Regions from separate parts of the Homo sapiens genome. Here region 1 is linked to region 2. Evidence: fine-mapped expression QTL. A gene starts in region 2. The other region holds a variant in brackets. All regions are shown on one strand. Distances are between the middles of the regions. Region 1 overlaps DGCR2 (DiGeorge syndrome critical region gene 2). Region 2 holds the start of ESS2 (ess-2 spliceosome associated protein).

Evidence for each region. PIP is the estimated chance that this variant, and not a neighbour inherited with it, causes the effect.
Region 1: its variant is fine-mapped to the expression of ESS2 in whole blood (INTERVAL, PIP 0.97).

What each region holds. Positions count from the first base shown.
Region 1 is chr22:19,110,660-19,121,205 of GRCh38, reverse strand. All of the region lies in intron 1 of DGCR2 (DiGeorge syndrome critical region gene 2), which reads left to right. Among named protein-coding and RNA genes, the nearest start is that of DGCR2, 6.5 kb to the left of the region's middle. RefSeq lists enhancers at 6,099-6,993, 10,344-10,546. The variant C/G (reference allele first, on the strand shown) is at 6,137.
Region 2 is chr22:19,140,034-19,150,579 of GRCh38, reverse strand. ESS2 (ess-2 spliceosome associated protein) reads left to right here and starts at 5,929. Exons shown (of 10, transcript NM_022719.3): 1 at 5,929-6,074; 2 at 7,686-7,854; 3 at 7,947-8,042. The coding sequence starts at 5,940. It overlaps GSC2 (goosecoid homeobox 2), which reads left to right and starts at 288. Exons shown (of 3, transcript NM_005315.2): 1 at 288-555; 2 at 664-917; 3 at 1,485-3,587. The coding sequence starts at 297. The coding sequence ends at 1,589. RefSeq lists enhancers at 837-1,336, 6,354-6,860.

The DNA of each region.
Region 1 (10,546 bases), 29 kb after region 2:
ACTCTTAATATTTCTTAATGGAGGAAAGGTCCCATGAAGGCAGAAGTGCCAGGGCCATCTTCTCTGATGACCTGGGTGTGGGAGCACGGGGTGTGTGGCCCTCTCCTGTGCCCTAGCCAGGCTCCCAGCCCAGATACACCGCACCTCTTGGCTCTGCGCTTGTGTCATCTATGTGGAATGTCTGCCTCCTCCCTAGTGCCTGCCTGGTGGCCAAGGCCCTGACCGGTGCTCAACCTGGACAGATTCAGTGATGCTTCTCTGGTCTCCCCATGTAGAGCTAGTTGCTCACTGCTTTTGGCTGCTCTCTGGGCAGCGGGATGACTAGTTGTGGGGTGGCCTTGGTAAGAACAGAAGCCAGGAAAAGGGCTACCTGTGGAGGAGGGTATCATATAGGCTCTTGGAGGTCAGAACCAATGGGTTTGTGGATTCTTGTGATTAACTTCTTTAGAAAACATATATGTACGTGTAGAGAGGTAGAAGGTCACCGTTTTCTGATTCTTGAGTCCCAGTTTTGCAGATGAGGTCACCGGGCTCAGGTGAGGCCATATTATGCCTGGCTTCTTTGGGGTGCCTCTGGTTCCAGGCCCAGCATCTCCTGCCTGGGTGATAGAGGTGACTGACGTCCCCGACTCCTTTTTCCTTGCCAGCCTTTTCACATAGCCTGCCAACTGGCCAGCAGCAACTGAGAAAGTGCCTGTGGGTGCTTGCCCCCTGCCCATCCCTAGGGAATCCAAGTGACAAGAACAAGCCCCTCCTTTTAGGAGTGCCTGATGTGGAACAGAGGCCAGGTGTAAGTCACTTGTCACACTCCTGTGTGTTGAATACCCTGGAGTGTGGGGTCCCAGAGGTGGGTGGAGGTGGCCATCTTTTTGTACCTGTGAAGCAGTGAGGGCGTCACAGGAGACCTCACACTGAGGTCGGAGTAGGGCATGGGTGGGGTGGATCTGGTAGAGGGAGCAAACTTATTCTTTCGATTCCATGACTCTCCAGATGAGAACATTGCAGCTACCCCTGGAGGCGTCTTGAGTTGCCCTGCAGAACCCGGGAGCTGCAGCTGGCTTCCTGGCTTTGGCTGGGCAGGGAGGGCAGGCCTCTGGGCCTGATGTGTTCCTTGTATGCCCGTGTGTGCCTCTTCACACATTCACCATGTGTCCTTCCTGAGAGTGCTGCAGGGATCTGCCTGGCTGGTGCTTGCAAGAGGCTGGGGCTTCTCTGGTCTTAGTCTGCGTTCTTTCTGTGGGGATTCCGGCCTTAAAAGCATACTTGAGTATGAGGAAGGTATCAGTCAGAGCCCACTTCTCAGGAGGGTGTTTTCTGACTCCTGCCTGGTGGGGTCCCTGAAGATGATGCCAAGCCACCTGGGCTTCCTCTCTGGTACAGGGCAGGGTGGAAGGCCTTTCATGGAGTTATGGGGCAGCAAGTGCTTGCTGTACTTGACCTTTCACCAATTTTTTTTTTTTTTTTTTTTTTGAGACAGAGTCCTGCTCTGTTGCTCAGGCTGGAGTGCAGTAGCGTGATCTTGGCCCACTGCAACCTCCACCTCCTTGGTTCAAGCGATTCTCCTGCCTCAGCCTCCCGAGTAGCTGGGATTACAGGCATACGCCTCCACGCTCGGCTAATTTTTGTATTTTTAGTAGAGATGGGGTTTTGCCATGTTGGCCGGGCTGGTCTGGAACTCCTGACCTCTGGTGAGCCACCTGCCTTGGCCTCCCAAAGTGCTGGAATTACAGGCCTGAGGTACCATGCCCAGCAATTTTTTTTTAAGTGCACATTTGAACTTGATTTAAGATGTGTCATGTGCCGGACACTGTTCTAAGCACTAACATATGTTAACTCTCAAGAGGTCCCTGCTAGATGCTGTTTTTAGCCTCATTTAAAGATGGGGAAGCTGAAATCCAGAGCACTCATGAAGCTAAGGCTGAGATGAGATTTCATCGTAGGAGTCTGGCCTTCCCCCCATCATGCACCCGTGACTGGGGTCTGTGCACTCCAACTGTGTGTCTCCAGCCCAGCCACAGGAGTACCTCATATTATGCTCTGAACAGCTTCCTTAACCCCAGGTGGAGCCACAGACTGCCTCTGTCCCCTGTTAGGTCCCAGGGTCCTCTAGGTGAGGGTGCAGAATCTTTTTCCATGTGGATACTCCAGTCTGAGGGACAGAACCACTCACCCTCTGCCAAATCCCTTCTGTGTTTGGCCATGTGACCACTGATGATGTGTGTTATGATCACTGGGGGTGTGATGAGGAAGAACGGTTGGAGACTACTGCTGAGGTAACTGACAGCGAGATGGTGGGGGGATTTGGGGACCACTGATTGTGATACTGTCTCATTGGCCCTTTCTCCATCTGTGTAGAGAAGGCAGCATCGACTGCTGATTCTAAAACTGTTTTTCTTTCTAGCTTTAATTGTGAAACAAAATTATATCATGAGCCACAGCTCTATCCAGGTTGAACCCACCATACATAGCTGAGAAAAAATTGCCTTCTGAATGCTGGTGCACCCTGGTCCCTTCCTGCTGGTTGTTGGTCCTGTACAGGGCCTGTGCTCAGCTAGGCCCCTTGGTAAGGTAGAGGACTAGAAGGTCGTCTTCCTTCTATTGTTGGTACAGCTAGCTGGGAGAGGCAAGTGACTTGTCTAAGGTCACACAGCTGGTGAGCAGCAGAGCGTGGGTTCAGACCCAGGTGGAGCTGGCTGCTAGCTCAGGGTTCTTTCTCTTTTGCTTTCAGTAGGCAGCTGTGCTGAGCTGATCACATCTCAGGGAGCTGAGAAGTGAACACAGCACCTTGGCTCTGGAGTCCAGAGTTGTTTTTTTTTTTTTTTTTTTTTTTTGTTTGCGATGGAGTTTCTGTCTGTCACCCAGGCTGGAGTGCAGTTGCGGGATCTCAGCTCACTGTAACCTCCACCTCCTGGGTTCAAGTAATTCTCCTGTGTCAGCCTCCAGAGTAACTTTGATTACGGCGCACGCCACCATGCTGGGATAATTTTGTATTTTTAGTAGAGACGGGGTTTCACCATGTTGGCCATGTAGGCTGGTCTCAAACTCCTGGGCTCAAGTGATCCACCTGCTTTGGCCTCCCAAAGTTACGGGATTGCAGGTGTGAGCCACCTCTCCCCGGCTGGAGTCCAGAGTTTTCTTTCATGTGAAGTAGCACAGGGGTTTGGTGCATAGGGAGAGAGTGCATATTTTCATCACAAGGAAAAGTGACCGAGGTTCAGAAGTAGCTGGAGAGGTGAGCTTGCACCTAGCCTTGCCAAATCCTCCTGAGTTTGGAGTGCTTTCCTCTGTAGCCAGTACTGTGACACTTTGTAGAGTTTGTCCACTGGTAGATTTGGCTTTTGGGTTAACAGGTTCATTTTTTTTAGTTGGAAAGTGATGTAATATACTTTCTACCTTCACTAGCTAATGAATTTTCCTTTTTTTTCTTGACAAAAAGAAAACTTTTATTTGGAAATAATTTCAAACTCCCGGAAAAGTTGCAAGAGTAAAGTGAGTGCAGAGAACACCTGCATATCCTTTGCTGAGGCTTCCCTACTGTTGGCATTTTACCTTATTTGCCTTATCCCTCATCTTCCATGTGTATGTGCATATCTGTGTACTCACACACATTGCTTTTTTCTGAACCATTTGAGAATAAGTTGTATGCGCCATGGCCGTTTATCCTTGTACATGTTAACCATTGCAGAGAGTAGAGGCTGCTCCCACTTAACCCCACCCCATCGTTCTCACTAACACCTGCTATGTGCCAAGCCCTGTGTCACGTGGGAAGGTCTCATGGGTGCAGGAAGCCCTGTAGTTAAAGCCCAGGTTGGCCCAGGTGGAGGCAAGCTGGCATCACTGCATGTCAGGGTTATTGTTTTAGTTGGCGGTTCTGGGTTTAGGAATGAAGACTGCTGTTGTGGAAGATTTGTGCTGTGTTAGGCTGCGCCTTCGCTGCTCCACTTCCCAAGCTAGCTTGTGGGCACTTTCCCCACCCCTTCCTTCCCACTTCCCAGAGTACTGAGTGATTATATCCTCTTAGCAGCGGTGGCCGGTGATTTGTTTGTGCAGGTGTCCTTCTAGCAGTGACGGCAGGTAATCTTGTTACGCACAGATCCTCTTAGCAGTAATGGGAGGTGAGTGATCTGTGTGTGTCCTCTTAGCAGTAAGGGCAGGTGATCTAGCTGTGCACGTGTCCTCTTAGCCATGGTGGGAGGTGATCTGGTTGTGCAGGTGTCCTCTTAGCAGTGATGGGAGGTGATGGGAGGTGATCTCATTATGCATGTTTCCTCTTAGCAGTAGTGGCAGGTGATCCGGTTGTGTGCATGTCCTCTCAGCAGTGATGACAGGTGATCTAGTAGTGCATGCATCCTCTCAACACTGATGGCAGGTGATCTAGTTATTGACTCTCTCCTGCTGGACCTGAGCCTTTGACAGGCAGGGAGTTCCTCTGCCTCTCTTGGTTGTTGGCATAAGGACGACCCGATTGGCATTTAGTAGTTTCTTGACTCTAAGTGGAATGCATCAGTGACAACATTTAAGGACCCCGTAGATAGCTCTTGACTGATTAGATGTCTTTTCCTTGGTATGCTATTAGATTTTCTCTTATGTGCTGTTATGTTTGGGTGCTGAGGTTTTGATGACCGTCCTCTTTCCTTTCTTTCACTGCCAGTCTGCAGAGTGGGCTCGGTAATCCCGAGAGACCAGTTTTGGGCCAACAGTTCATTGAGCAGAGTGATGCATGGGCTTGGGTATGGTTATTATGTGATAGCTGTGTAACACCTGTATTTGTGTTTCTGACATGATTTACCAGTTGTCCTGGGAAGTTTAGTCAAAGCCAGTCCATCTCATCCTGCCATTCCAAGCTGTGTGTCCTGTCAGTGTGGACATGGCGGGCTTGGCAGGGCAAGTCTAGGTTGGAGGGTGAATAGCCTGTGGACCCAGATGCCCTGGACCTTCTGGGCATCCTCCTGGGAGATGGGGAAGCTCAGGTCTGGTTTTGCCTCAAATGAGCTGTCTGTAAAAGTAGCAGCTGGGATTAGATCAAGCCTTCTCATCCTGGCCCATGGCAGGCAGTTGGGTATGGTGGCTTAAGAGCATGGGCTCTAGAGCCACACTGCCTAGGCTCAATCTGTTCTACTGCTCACTCTTCAGTTTCCTCATTTGGAACATGGACATCGTAACAGAGCTTTATAGAGATGTTGTGAGGATTAAAATGGGTAAGTATAAAATTCTAAAAAGTGTCTGACATAAAGCAAACTCTTCATCAGGCAAAATGTTAGTGTTAATCACAGATAGAGTTCAGGAACCCTGAACTGAAATGTGAAATGTGAGGTGGTTTGTGCACAGGGCTTATTGGTCGGGAGAGAGCTCCCTCAGGAGGTGGCAGAGTACAGTGGCTCTGAGGAGTGTCTGCCACACAGAGAGTGCTCTTTGCTGTTATGATGGGATCAGAGGGACTGCGTATGACTTGCTGAGAGCCCCCGAAACAGCCATGGTGCTTTGGACAGGGCTGGGATTGTTCATACACGTTTTGCTCTTTGTCACATTCATGCTCTGTCACCTGGGCCTGGTCAGGCACAGACTGGGCACTCAGAAATCAGTTATTGAACAAATGCACAAATGCCTATTTATATTTTGACATAAAGAGCAACAGCTACTTTAGCCAGCAGGCCTTGCAGCTGCCTCTGGTGGGGGTGGCGAGGAGGATGAGAGCCTTGTGGCAGTCCTGCAAAAATGCCTTGGGAGGATGGGATCCGGGGGTAGGGGACATGGCTGTGGAGCCAGCTGGCCTGGGCCCCACCCTGGTAGGAGCTTGCTTCTGTGATGGGAGCTGAGCTGAGAGGTGAGAGCAAGTGTGGCTTCTCATTAATGTGGATCCTCACTGAAGCTCACCAGCTGCCCAGCCTGGGGTGGAGGGTTGAGGGGCTCCCAGAGGGAGGGACCCCAGCAAGCCGGTGCTGAGGGAGCTGCCTCTCTGATGGACTTGCTGGCACCTGGCTTTGAGAACTGGACTGCCCTGTGTGAGGATGTGGCTGGACCTTCCCTGGGTTGTTTGCACAGTGCAGGGCTTGTTTCTGGTCAAGAGCTGGCTGGGTGCATGGGCTGCATGGGCTGCACATGCTTGCCTCTTGGCCTTCTCCTCCTCCTCTGCCTG[C/G]GGTAGCTGTTGCTTCAGTCACTCTGAGCTGGTCATTGTTCTTAGTGCCCTTGTCCCCTACAGGTCCCTCCCTGTAGGCTGACTTCTGGCTGACCTCTGGCAAAATGGCAGACAGCTATCAGTTTGGTTAGCTTGTCTTCCTTGGTTAGTCTGTCATCCTTCAGCTGTTGGCTGCTACTGTTGGACAGGACAGTACTGAGGACAGTATTCTGGTGGGTATGGTGGACTAAGGGTCCCCCAGGTAGACCCTGCCCTCTTCCTTGCCTGGGAAGTCTCATTTTCTGGGAAACCTTCCTTAGGAGTTCATAGTTGTGGAGAGGATTGTTTGTGGCTGGCCAGGGCACTGGATGAGGGGCAGGAGTCACAGCAGAGGGACCCAGAAGGTCAACACAGGGATGATCAGCAGGAGACTGACCACAGGACCGGGCCAGATGCTCCATTGAAACTAGGTCTGCTGATGCAGAGGTCTCTCCGGTGCCACTGGCTGCTTCTTAGGGCCTCCAGGTAGATTAGTTTACCTACAGAACTCTGTCTATGGTCTTAGAATAAGAGGACCTGGAAGAGTTAGAGGCTTGTTGGGGGCCATGGCAGGCCTTTGCTGCAGTTCTTGGAGGTTTCTTGGCCACTCCTGACAGTGGGAGCAGCTCTTCGGATTTCCCCATCTACCCTATTTGCGAAGGATGCCTGCTAGACCAGCATGGTAAGCCATGGGGCATGGAGAGAGCCCAAGGGTGTAGAAGATCTTGTCTGGACAATCTAGAAAAAATAAAGTTGATATTTCTTCACATTTGCTAACATTCATACATAGAATATTTTACATAAATGGAATTATATTTTTTATTTAATTTTTGTATTTAACTTATTTTGAGATCTTTGTAGATCAGTGCATATATAACTTCATTCTTTTTTTTTTTTTTCCTTTGGTAACAAAAGATGGAGAGGAAAGGTGGGAATGGGTCGGGGCAAGATTGTCTTAACTCGTTCTTTTTTTTTTTTTTTTTTTTTTTCCTCAAATGGAATCTTGCTTTTGTTGCCCAGGCTGGAGTGCAGTGGTGCAATCTCAGCTCACTGCAACCTCCACTTCCTGGGTTCAAGTGATTATGCTGCCTCAACCTCCCAAGTAGCTGGGATGACAGGCGTCTGCCACCATGCCCGGCTAATTTTTGTATTTTTAGTAGAGATGGGATTTTGCCATGTTGGCTGGGCTGGTCTCAAACTCCCAACCTCAGGTGATCCGTCTGCCTTGGCCTCCCAAAGTGCTGAGATTACAGGCATGAGCCACTGTGCCTGGCCTAACTCATTCTTTTTTAGAAATCTTTTTACTTTGGAAATATTTCAAACCTACATAACAGTAGGTTGACTTGGCAAGTGGAAACCCCTTCACCTGGCCTTTTCAGGATGGGAGCGTGTCGCCTTCTGACATGTTTCCATCAACTTGAAATTCCTTTTTACCAGGCACATCTTGTACCTTACCTGCCCCACACTGGAATGGGGCATTTTCCCACAGAGCGCTGGTTCCTTTTGGTGGGAGATGGTATTTAGAAAGCAGGATTTTGGTGGTAGATGTGTTTATTGCTAGCTACTAGAGTATGCTGCGACTCCATCTTTTCAGTCTAGCCCAAGAGGTGTGTGCATACGTGCATGTGTCTGTGCCTGTGTAAGTTCATACTGTTATTTTTTTTTTTTTATTTTTATTTTTTTGAGACGGAGTCTCGCTCTGTTGCCAGGCTGGAGTGCAGTGGGGTGATCTCGGCTCACTGCAACCTCCGCCTCCCGGGTTCAAGCGATTCTTCTGCCTCAGCCTCCCAAGTAGCTGGAACTACAGGCATGCGCCACCACACCTGGCTAATTTTTGTATTTTTAGTAAAGATGGGGTTTCACCATGTTGGCCAGGATGGTCTCGATCTCTTGACCTCATGATCTGCCTACCTCCACCTCCCAAAGTGCTGGTATTACAGCCGTGAGCCACTGTGCCTGGCCCATACTGTTTCTTTAGTTCTAATCCAGCGTTCCAGGTTCTTGCTTGCTTTCTCTGTTGCATGTTTGTTTCTCTCTTTTTCTACAGTGAGAACCCTGGCTCCCAACAGCATCAGTAGGTTTACTCATTTGCTTAGTCTTACACTGCACCCAGAATAGTTTCAGAAGTACTGCATTCGCACCACTAGTAACAGCAGACCTATTAAGTAGAATTTAATTTAATTTAATTTTTTTTAGCTCTTTGTGTTTTCAGATTGATGGTGTATACTCAAGGTTCTTGGGTTCAAAAGCTACTTGGATTAATTCTCTTCTCTCTTCCATGTGATTGTTACACAGTTAGGTTCAAAACTGTGTTGAGGCAGGGCCGGGTGGTTCACACCTGAAATTCCAGCACTTTGGGAGGCTGAGGTGGGTGGATTGCTTGAGCCCAGAAGTTCTAAACCAGCCTGGGCAATATGGCATCTCTGCAAAAACTACAAAAATTAGCTGGGCATGATGGCACACGCCTGTAGTCCCAGCTACTTGGAGGGGACTGAGGTGGGAGGATCGTTTGAGCCCAGTGAGCAGAGGTTATGGTGAGCTGAGATCATGCCTCTGCACTCCAGCCTAGGCAACAGAGCAAGACCTGCCTCAAAAACCAAAACCAAAAAAAAAACCTGTTTTGATTTGAAACCATGTTTATTAAATAATATTGAGAGTGGTATTTACTGTAACCTCAGTATTTATAACAAGCCCCTCTTTCATTACACTAATTGGTAAGGAAGCATCTCAATTTTGAACGGTTTTATTATTTTCCTAGGTTTTTTTTTTTTTTTTTTAAAAGATGGAGTCTTGCTGTGTCACCTAGGCTGGAGTGCAGTGGTGCGACCTCGGCTCACTGTAACCTCTGCCTCCCGGGTTCAAGCGATTCTCCTGCCTCAGCCTCCCCAGTAGCTGGGACTACAGGTGCGTGCCACCACGCCCAGATAATTTTTGTATTTTTAGTGGAGATGGGGTTTCGCCATGATGGCCAGGCTGGTCTTGAACTCCTGACCTCAGGTGATCCACCCGCCTGCATCTCTGAAAGTGCTGGGATTATAGGCATGAGCCATCATGCTCAGCCAATAAATAGATATTTTAAAAATAATTATTTTTCATTTCTGACAGTCCTGAGCCTTCGTTGATGTACTTTTGTCAAAACTCTTGGTAAATCACTTTTTAAGTTTCAGTTTCTTCCTGGAGACAAAAAAAAATAAATAAATAAAAAATAAAAACAAAAAAGAGTTTAGATGTTCAAGGGCTATTTGGGCCCAAGTGCTGACATTGTGAGCTTGTTGGTTTAACAGGGTCTCATTCCACCAGCCATCACCCTTTGTGTTTCCTCTCCATCCGATAGCTTGGGTTCGTGCTCTGATAGTCTTTGGGTATGCAGTGGTATGGGGGAGCTGTCTGAAGCAGGGGCTGAGGTTGGCCTGGGAGTTTGGGTATAGTTCTACACACCCTTTACCTGACAAGACTCATTGTGGAGGGGTGATCAGTGAGGCAGGTGGTAGGTCTGTTTTGGAGATTAGGATGCTAAGACCCAGAGAGGTTAATTAGCTTGCTTGGTGGCATCACTTAGCTTTTAAGTAGAAGCAAGAACAGGAAACTCAGGACTGCTATCCTGAGCCACATGCTTTGCCTCCTGCACCATGATTCCAAAAGCTGATGAAAGAGCTGTATGGCAGAGGGAGCTAAGTGGAGCGCCACCACCTGGGGCCTCCTGCCTAAGAACCGGGCACCTTTTCACTGAGTTGGGCATCGCTAGTGTTCACAGTTCTGACTGCACCAGCATCTTGTGTGGACACTGATGCTGTGATGTCTCTTTGGGCTTGGGTGATCAATTCAGGCCAGCTGGTGACCACCCTCTGTGATCTCACCACACAGTGATTGCAATCAAATCTACCTGTGTGTTTCCAGAAGCTTGGGAGGCTTATTAGAGTGTCACCTTCTTTTGTATGGACGGACTTTGTGGGTTTTCAACCGTGTGGATGTATTACTTCTTAACAAACATTCATGAAAGTAAAAGATGAGGAAAAGGTATTTTAAAAGGAAAAAAATGTGTATAACTGAATATAAAACATACTACTTAACAGAAAAAATAGATCTAAAATGCTTAGAACCCACAAAAAAGTTAAATGAAATTTTAGCTTAATGCTGTTGCATATTTCTGCTTTATAATTGCAGCATGAGATGTGATGTCTTTTTATAGGAAGTAGGTTTACTCATATTAACCTCATTTTACAGATAGAGAAACAGAGCTTGGGAGACTAAGTGACTTAGCCAAAGTCACACAGCTTTTAAAGTCATGGAGTGGGTATTTGAAACATGGGCAGCATAGAGTTCATGCTGTGATATTGCACAGCTTCAAGAGAAGTCTCTGGCTCTTTTTCCATCTACTCCTTGTCTTTCTCC
Region 2 (10,546 bases):
GGGCGGCGGCGAGGCGGCCCTCCGCCCCTTCCCCGCAGGTCGCCCTGCCAGCTTGAGCGGCGGGCGCGGGTGGGGCAGGAGGACGCGGGGCGGGGTGGGGGGCACAGGGGGCCCTCTCTGCAGCGCCCCCGGCCCCCGCGCGCGGAGGCAGGGCCGCCGCAGTCGAGGATTAGCGCGTTCGCGGCCGGCGCTGCGGGATTAACCCGCGTGGACTGGACGCCCGGCCCGGGGATTACTGCGCGCTCCCTCCCCGACGTATATATTCCCGCGGCGGCGGCGCCCCGGCCGGGCCGGGCATGGCGGCAGCGGCTGGGGGCGCGGCGAGCCGCCGGGGTGCCGGGCGGCCCTGCCCCTTCTCCATCGAGCACATCCTCTCCAGCCTGCCCGAGCGGAGCCTCCCGGCCCGGGCCGCCTGCCCACCGCAGCCCGCCGGTCGCCAGAGCCCCGCGAAGCCAGAGGAGCCCGGGGCGCCCGAGGCTGCGCCCTGCGCCTGCTGCTGCTGCTGCGGCCCCCGCGCGGCGCCCTGCGGGCCCCCAGAGGCGGCCGCCGGGCTGGGTGAGTGGGCGCGGAGCGGGGCGCGGGGCCCGGCGGAGCCCGGGGCGCGGCGCAGTGGGTGCCGAGCTTGGCCCCAGCCCCGCGCCTCACCGCGCCCTCGCTCCGCAGGCGCTCGTCTGGCGTGGCCGCTGAGGCTGGGACCGGCGGTGCCCTTGTCTCTGGGTGCGCCAGCCGGAGGTTCCGGGGCGCTCCCGGGCGCGGTCGGCCCGGGTTCGCAGCGGCGCACGAGGCGCCACCGCACCATCTTCAGCGAAGAGCAGCTGCAGGCGCTCGAGGCGCTTTTCGTGCAGAACCAGTATCCTGACGTGAGTACGCGCGAGCGCCTGGCCGGCCGCATCCGCCTTCGCGAGGAGCGCGTGGAGGTGAGTGCCCCGCCCAGCCTTTCCCCGGAGCGCGCGGGCCGCGGCTACACTGGACTGGGGTCCTGGCGGGCGGGCGCCCTTTGCAAAGACGGCCTCGGCCCAAGCCCCGCCCTGGCGCGCCGGAGGGAGGAGGTCCCTGGACGGCGCTGGGCGTCCGGGGGTATGAGGAGCGGGTGAGAGCAGGGAGGTGCCGCGGGAAAGGAACCGGAGGGCTACTTTTCTTTTCTTTTGTTTTACACTTTCCTCTGGTGACGAAAGAGGCCCGCGTTCACGTCCAGAATTTGGGAAATTCAGAAGAGCCCGCAACCCAAGAAGGGGCGTCCTGGTCGCCGCCAGCTGGAGGCTGGGGCGGGTACTAAGGGGGTTCCCATCTCGCGTCCAGACCCACCGAGTCTGTCCGCAGCGAATAAGGGCAGGTGGCGCGCAGCCGCGGCCCGGGTGTCGGCTCTACAGCGCCGTCCGCCCACATCCCTGTTGCGAAGCTCCCCTCTCGGTCCCTGTGGGACCCTCGGGAGCCGGTGGGACGCAGGACCTGGGGCTAGGGCTGAGCATTCCCCCCATCCCCAGGTCTGGTTCAAGAACCGCCGGGCCAAATGGCGACACCAGAAGCGCGCGTCGGCTTCCGCGAGGCTCCTGCCCGGCGTCAAGAAGTCCCCGAAGGGGAGCTGCTGATGACTCTAGGAGCTGCCCCTGGGCTCGGCCACCCTTTTTGGGATCTTTGGAGTTGGCGCTGAGAGAAGACAGGTCTACCCGAAAAGGAGCTGGGAGAGTACACCGGCCGCCTCCACCCGTCTCCACAGCCCTTGCCTCCTGCAGCTCGTGCTGCCGTGGCGCTGGGGACGGGCCCCCGGTGCTTGGTGTTCCACGGCAGTGGGAGTGGCGAGTCCCTTGGGGGTGGGCTGGGGCATAGAGCAGTTTCCTCAGCTCCCTACCCCCCGAGAGACACTAACTCCACCGCAGGAGGGGAACCACCCCGTATCAACACGGGACCCAGAATCCTACGCAGTGGAGCGTCTCTCCGCACCCTGGGACATGCTGGCCACCCTCTTCTCAATGTGGACATTGACCTAACTTGACCTGGCTCGTCCTCCCCCAGCGGGAGAGGGGATGGGGTTCGTGTCTGTGCAGTCCTGGCGTTGCAGGCTTCCCAGGCCCTGGGCTGGGTCTTGGTATCTGGACCTGTAGAATAAGAAGGTCGCAGGAGCGATTCCAGGAGCCCCTCCACAGTCCCTTCACCTTCGAGCCTCGCGCTGATACTGAGAAACTAGCAACTTCAAATACCACAGAAGCCGCCCAGAGTCTCAAGTCCACCTTGGCTCCACTCCCACACCCAACAAGGAGCTGTCCCTTCTTCTTCCTTCCCAGCGAGGGGGTATTTAGGGTACAGCTGTCTTTGAGAGGAGCACAGCTCAGCGATCCTCAGTCTCTGCACCAGGGTGCTCCCCAGCAGAGGGGACTGCTCCACGGATGGTGGCCTTGGACCCCTGGGGTCCAGCCCTGGCCTCTAGGCTACTGTGAACCTGCCCATGGGTGAGGGTCCCCTGCTTCCTCCTGGGGTTTTCATGCTGTGGGCTCGGACTCCCTCACAGCAATCTGTGCCATCCTAGGGTAGGGCAAGAGGAGGTTGGACTGGGGAGACCCCGCCCCTGCTGCCTGGGAAGATGCCTGCCCTCCCCTTCTTTATCCTGGCCCATGGCAAAAGGCACAGTGGAAAGAAGCCTTAGATTCCCCAAGTAGGCCCTACAGTGGGTCCAAAGCATCTCACATCCCCACCCCCAGCTGGCTTGAGCACCTCGTTCTGTCTCCTTACAGGCCCTGCAGGGAATGGGGCCATTCTACCTGCAAGAGATGAAGTCCATCTCTAAAAGCAGGACTGCAGAAGCCAGGGCTGCAGCTCCCCAGACACCCCAAGGCTGGCCAGCTTGGATAACACCAAGCAAGCATGGTGTCCCCAGTCAGAACTGCCCTGACACTGCTGGGTGTCCCTAGCATCCCCGCCTCCACCCCTAGCATGCACACAAAGCCCTTCTCCCTGAACCCTGGTCTTGCCCTTGGGGACTGAACAGACTACCTGTGGACATGCCCGTGTCCCAGTCAGCTCCCTTGCAGCTGGGGACACTCGCATCTCACAGGCTCCAGGCCCCTTGAGTTCCTTGGTTGAATGGCCATCTGTCATTGTTTTGGGAGCCCCGATCAGAGCTTGTGGAGCGCCACCTTCCAGGGCTCAGTGGCTGTGTTGCTCTCCTGAATTTGCTTCTTGAGCTCTAGCTGCTCCTTGGCAGGCTGACCCCCCACAGCAGGCTATTAACATAGGCATCCTTCACGCTCACACCCAGGCGCTCGCTTCTCATCTTCACCCTCTTCCCGGTTTATCTTTTACCCTCAGACTCCAATTCCCATCTTTCTGCCACATTTACATCTCAAGCCAGGCACTTCCCCTGAGCCAGGTATTTATCTCCAGCTGTCCCCTTGAAGCCCACAGACTCCTTAAGGTCACCTTGTCCACAGTGAGCTCTTCTGTGCAAACCAGGCACATGAGCCAGAGAGCTAGCCGCCCACCCGAAACTGGTCCCTGGACCCCTCCCTCTCCTGATCATCCACTATACCCAGGCTGACAGGAAGTCAGTTTTACTGTTTATCAATAAATCAATAAATCCCAGAATCTCTCCAGCTCTAACTGCACCAGTCTGATGTAAGCCACCGTCACCTCTCACCTTGACCACTGCAACTGTCTCTAATCTTGTCCACCTGCACCACACTGGCTCTGCTTTTTTGTTTGTCGGTTGGTTTGAGACAAGGTCTCGCTCCATCACCCAAGCTGGAGTGTAGTGGTGCAATCATGGCTCACTATAGCCTCCAGCTCCTGGGCTCAAGCGATCCTCCCCCATCAGCCTTCTGAGTAGCTAGGACCACAGGTGGGCACCACCACACCCGACTAACTTGAAAAGTTTTTTGTAGAGATGAGGTCTTGCCATGTTGGCCAGGCTGGTCTCAAACTTCTGACCTCAAACTATCCGCCGGCCTAGGCCTTCCAAAGTGCTGGGATTATAGGCATGAGCCACTGTGCCTGGCCTGCCCCTTCAATTCAGAATGAAGACAAACCACCTCACCATACCCTACAAGGCCCTGTGCAGCCTGGCCCTGCCTCTCTGGCATCATCTCACACCTCACTGCACTCTGCATTTCCAAAGGACTTCTTTAGAACTTGCCTTGCTCCCTCCCACCACTAGGCCTTTGCACATGCTCTTTCCACCTGACTGTTGCCGGTTTGTTCGTCTTTTGAATCTGCAATCACTTTCTGCCTGGGGAAGCTTCTCTGACCTCCCGAACTAGGTCAAGATTCCCCAAGTACAAACTCTTTTCTTGCACGGACACAGCTGCAATTTTACACCTGTTTGTGTGATGATCTAACAAGTGTCTCTGTCTTCCCCATTGCACTGTCACTTCTACAAGGGCAGCAGCAGCACGCTGCACTTCAGTGAATGAAGGTATCCCTGTATGTTGCAAAAGCAAAATTGTATTAAATTGTTCCAGGGCGGAATTTATTTGTCCAACACAATTCACATCTTTCGTTTGGGAAGAAATTCCTTAAAAATGCCGAGGCAATTTTCTGGTTCACTTGAATATTAATTTTTTTTTTTCTTGACAGAGTTTCACTCTGTCACCCAGGCTGTAGTGCAGTGGCACAATCTCTGCTCACTGCAGTTTCCACCTCCTGGGTTTGAGTGATTTTCCTGCCTCAGCCTCCCAAGTAGCTGGGACTACAGGCACCTACCACCACTTTGTATTTTTTTTTTTTTTTAGTAGAGTTGGGGTTTCACCATGTTGGCCAGGCTGGTCTCAATCTCCTGACTTCAAGTGATCCACCTGCCTGGGTCTCCCAAAGTGCTGAGGTTACAGGCGTGAGCCACCGTGCCTGGTCTTGAATGAGAATGATCCCTCTTCTGGGAAGCCCACTCTGGCATTTGGGGGCCCAATAATCTTTTTTTTTTTTTTGACAGAGTTTTGCTCTTGTTACCCAGGCTGGAGTGCAATGGTGCAATCTCAGCTCACTGCAACCTCCGCCTCCTGGGTTCAAGCAATTCTCCAGCCTCAGCCTTCCGAGTAGCTGGGATTACAGGCGTCCACCACCATGCCCAGCTAATTTTTTTGTGTGTTTTTAGTAGAGATGGGGTTTCATCTTGTTGGCCAGGCTGGTCTAGAACTCCTGACCTCAGGTGATCCGCCTGTCTTGGCCTCTCAAAGTTCTGGGATTACAGAATAATCTTTAGACATTTCTTAATCGAACCACTGTCTTGTTCTTTCACCTTTTGTTAGATAACTATAAAAAAAAAAAAAAGATTGTTTTGGCCGGGTGCGGTGGCTCACGCCTGTAATCCAGAGACCAGCCTGACCAACATAGAGAAACCCTGTCTCTACTAAAAATGCAAAATTAGCCGGGCGTGGTGGCCCATGCCTGTAATCCCAGCTACTCGGGAGGCTGAGGCAGGAGAATCCCTTGAACCCGGGAACTCCGGTGAGCCGAGATCATGCCATTGCACTCCAGCCTGGGCAACAAGACCGAAACTCCGTCTCAAAAAAAAAATTGTTTTAAGGCCCTTTTCTTGCATAAAGCTTGAAACTCCTATATAAGTAAATTTCCTGGTTTGTATTTTTGTAGAATAATCTCGAAGCATACATAGTTCTTATTTGTGGGAAATTAGAATTCTAAGGCCTTTGGACGCTGCAAAGCCAGAATTTCTCGCGTGAAGAACACGCCCTATAGCATCCTCCCCGCCACCTCCACAGCACCCCCTCGTGTTCACAGCATTGACAAGCATGAATAGCGCGGGGCAGGACAAGGACTACATTTCCAATAAAGTCTAGCATTTATAGTGACGTCAGAACGGAGCGCGGGCTGGCTTTCTAGAGCCACAGCTTTTCCATTGGCCAACTATTGGAGGCGCCTGCGCAAATGGTGCAGTCCCGCCCCCTCCACCCTGTGACGCGCCTGCTGGGCCCGAGCTTTTTCCTGGGATAGCGATGGAGACGCCGGGCGCATCAGCGTCGTCCTTGTTGCTTCCCGCCGCGTCCAGGCCCCCGAGGAAGCGCGAGGCGGGAGAGGCTGGGGCTGCGACGAGCAAGCAGCGGGTCCTGGACGAGGAAGAGTATATCGAGGTACGACCTCGGTGCGGACGCCGGCGACTTCTGGGCCCATCCTCTGCTTCAAGCTCCTCTCAGGTTCCCTCTCTCGGGTGTTGACACTCCGTCTCCTCGTGGAAGTGGAGGAGCCGGGTGTGGACGGTCCCACGAGTCAAGTAAACAGGGCAGAGGAAGACGTCTGTGGTGGAAGAGGCTGTAGTAGTGTTGTCAGGGAAAAGAGAGAGCGGCTCTCTTTGTATGGGACGGGGGTCAGGGAAAGAAGATTTTCTGTTAAAGTGTGAGTAGGAGTTTGACAAACTGGAAGGATGGTGGCAAAGAGGGCTTTCTAAAGAGCGGTGGCAGCAAGTGTGAATGCTGGGGTTCCTGGAAAGAGACCGCAGTTGTGACAGCATCTCGAGTGAGTGGACCTGCGTCGCCCCACCACACGCACACAGAAGGAGGAGCTGAAACGGGGATTGGCGGAAGTCAGTTTGGTTTTAGACCTGTTTAATTCGGGACACCTTTTGGGATATGTAGATGGATGGCTTTAACGGACGGTTGGGTGCCCAGATATGCAGCTCGGGAGCAAGGTCTGGCTGGAGGTGCAGACTTGGGAATCTCAACTTGTGGTAGTGACTGGCTGAAGTTACTCAGGAAAAAGGTTTATTTTTATTTTATTTTTTGAGACGGAGTCTCGCTCGTCGTCCAGGCTGGAGTGCAGTGGCGCGATCTCGGCTTACTGTAACCAACCTCTGCCTCCTGGGTTCAAGCCATTCTCCTGCCTCAGCCTGCCGAGTAGCTGTGACTACAGGTGCCCGCCACCACGCCCGGCTAATTTTTGTATTTTTAGTAGTGGTGGGGTTTCACCATGTTGGCCAGGCTGGTCTCGAACTCCTGACCTCAGGTGATCCGCCCGCCTTGGCCTCTCAAAGTGCTGGGATTACAGGCGTGAGCTACCATGCCCCGCCAGGAGAAAGGTTTAGATTGGAAATAGAAAGTCATGTGTGGAATGAAAGTGACAACACCCACATTGGTCTGGCTTGTGGGGAGCCAGCAATGGAGAATGAGAATGACCAGTTAGCAAGGGCGAGAGAGAAGGGTTTCACGGACTTCAGAAGAGTGTTTAGTAATGTTAGAGGTTGCAGCATGGCTACCATATGGGATGCTCAACCCCACTAGAAAGTGCCCTCAAGCTCCCTCAATCCAGCCCCAGTCATTGGGGAAGTAGAATTTGAAGGAGGTTCAGCAAGTTCCTTAGCATGTACAGCAGTGGACCTGTGAGGCAGGAGCACCCAGACTGCAGCTCCGACTTTCTTTTTTCTTTTTTTTTTTTTTTTTTGAGACGGTCTCGCTCTGTCGCCCAGGCTGGAGTGCAGGGGTGTGATCTTGGCTCACTGCAACCTCCGCCTCCCGAGTTTAAGCGATTCTTCTGCTTCAGCCTCCCACGTAGCTGGAATTACAGGTGCCTGCCACCACGCCCGGCTAATTTTTGTATTTCTAGTAGAGACTGGGTTTCACCATGTTGGCCAGGCTGGTCTTGAACTTCTGACCTCATGATCCACCTCCCTTGGCCTCCCAAAGTGTTGGGATTACAGGTGTGAGCCACCGCGCCTGGCCTCTGACTTTCATTCTGATCTCTCCTTGCAGGGCCTCCAGACGGTCATCCAAAGGGATTTCTTTCCTGATGTGGAGAAGCTCCAGGCACAGAAGGAGTACCTGGAAGCCGAGGAGAATGGAGACTTGGAACGGATGCGCCAGATTGCCATCAAGTTTGGCTCTGCCTTGGGCAAGATGTCCCGGGAGCCCCCGCCACCCTGTATGAGGACCCTGTGGGTGGCGGAGAGGGGAAAGCCTGCTGAACTGTCGCTTCAGGCTCACTCTAATTCTTATCCCCCTCTCTTCCCCTAGATGTGACTCCAGCCACATTTGAAACCCCTGAGGTGCATGCAGGCACTGGAGTGGTGGGCAACAAGCCCAGGCCCCGCGGCCGAGGCCTGGAGGATGGTGAGTGAGGGTGCCCTCTTTAAGTCACATGGTCAGGATTGCCTGGGAATCTTAGCCTGTGAGGCCCTGAGGGGGTGGTCCAGAGGGCTGCAGGCCACATCTTGTTCCTGAGGGGTCTTGCGTAAATAGCAGCCTGTGAAGTCAAAGGACATTGGTCTAGGTGGTAGAACATCTGGGTCCAGCTCCCACACATGGCTCGCCTCTGTGAAATGGGACTCTCACCAGCTCTTGCTGGCTTTTCTGCTGTGTTCCAGCCCTGCCCTGTGGGCTTCATGGATGTTGGAAGGCCCCTTTTGTTACTATCCTGAAGATGCCTCAGGGCCTCTCCATTTGTTTCCTTCATGTTGGTCACTTCCCAGATAACTGCATGGCTCACTGTGTTTCTTCCTGTAGATCTCTGCATAGGTGTTACCTGTTCAGAGAAACTTTTCTTGACCTGCCAGTGTGAAGTCACAACACCACTGGTGCTCTGTGGCTTCCAGCCTGGCTTTGGTTTTTCATCACAAGACATTTTATTTTATTTAATTTCATTTTATTTTTAATTTTTTGACACAGAGTCTCGCTCTGTCACCCAGGCTGGAGTAAAATGGTGTGATCCCGGCTCACTGCAACCTCCACCTCCCAGGTTCAAGCAATTCTCCCTGCCTTAGCCTCCCAAATAGCTGGGATTACAGGCGCCTGCCACCACTCCTGGCTAATTTTTGTATTTTGTAGTAGAGACGAGGTTTTGCCATGTTGTCCCGGCTAGTCTTGAACTCCTGACCTCAGGTGATCTGTCTGCCTCGGCCCCCCAAAGTGCTGGTATTACAGGTGTGAGCCACCGCGCCTGGCCAAGACATAACGTTTTAAAGGCATTTCTGTTTATGGTCTCTTTCCCTAATTGGCATCCCTTGCACAAGAGCAGAAGCTTTGTTTTGCTTTCATCTGTATGCTCCGTGTTGGGAACAGCACATGTGGTGTTGTGGGCCTTGCACAGATACACATGGAACAGATGAAAGAGTTGTCATCTTCAGCATGTTTGCTGGGACACACAGCTCTATATGGTAACATCGTGACTTGATGGGGGAGTCGGTTTAGGAAAGGGCACTCCGAGTCCTGTTGAATGCAAGTGTTCTGCACGCCATGGGACTTCTGCGTTGTCAGGCCCTCTTTTCATCAGTAGTAGAATGTCAGTGCATGTATAGACAAACGAGACACTCTTTCTTATCAGTTTGTAGACTCCACTGTGCTGGAGTAGCACAGATGTGTTGTGTGTTTGCACAAACATGCAAACATGATACTTTTTGCTTTACAATCCAGCTTTTTCGGCCATTAACACAGTCCTTGTTGTCCTTGAAGCTTGATTATCTGTTGAAATGTAGCTTGTGCATCACAGGGCAATTTGTAGATTTTTTTCTTCTCCTTTTTTTTTTTTTTCCTATAGAGATGAGGTTTCATTATGTTGCCCAGGCTGGTTTTAAACTTCTGAGCTCAAGTGATCCTCCCACCTTGGCCTCCCGAAGTGCTAGGATTACAAGTGTGAGCCATCATGCCTAGCCAGTTTGCAGATTTTCAATACCTGTACACCTACATGCCAGTAAATATAGGAATCCTTTTCAGAACCTAAGTGGTAGGAACCATCATCATGTTTACAGGTGAGGAAACTGAGGCTCAGAAAGGCAGTCACTTCTGCAGGTCTCAGAGATGGTCAGGGTTTCACTTCTTATCTCTCTGAGATGAATAGAGTTTCTGACCCCTGTCCTCATCCCGTGGGTCTTGAGCTTGTAGCCACTGTGCCTTGTGCATAGCCTCACGTGTAGCAGGTGGTCAGGACTGTCACTAGACTTGAAGGCAGAGCTCTCCAGGTGGCCCCACCGAAGTTTGCACCACCACACGCAGCACCAGGGCACCACCTCAGTGGGAGTACCACTTTCCATGGTGGCAGGGTTGGTCGGAGGGGGGGGTGTTTGGGGTTGTGGCTTAGCACCTGTGAGGCCCCATCCAGAGGACTAAGTCATATGAGATCCCTGGAATTGGGGCTCGCTCTCAGGTCAGGATGATTAGGCGATGACCACCCACCTGTAGTACAGGTACCAGGAAGAGAAGAGTGGGTAAGGTAAGGAAATCCTAGGGAGTGAGGGAGAGCCCCAGGGATTTGGAGGCCTGGCACCCACAGGCCTGGCACCACTTTGGTGGGGGAGGAGCCTGCCTGTGATCACGAGCTCTTGCTCTAACACCTGTATTGCTTTCTCCAGTCTGAATCAGACCACGTAATTCCCTTGGCATCCAGCACATGAGCAGAGCTGGCCCTGAATCTGTAGGGTACCACCTGAGGGCTCTCTGGGCAGTCAGGGTGGGTGGATTCTGCCCCCGTGGGGAGTCCTTGGCAGTGTGGGCTTTCATGGGCAGAAGCCAGGACCAGGGGAGAGGATTCCAGCCCTGCATGTTGGGGGCTATGATTCCTGGGCCTGGGTGTCCTCCTCTTTCCTGACTGCAAAGGGTGCTGTGTTCCTCCTCCCGCAACC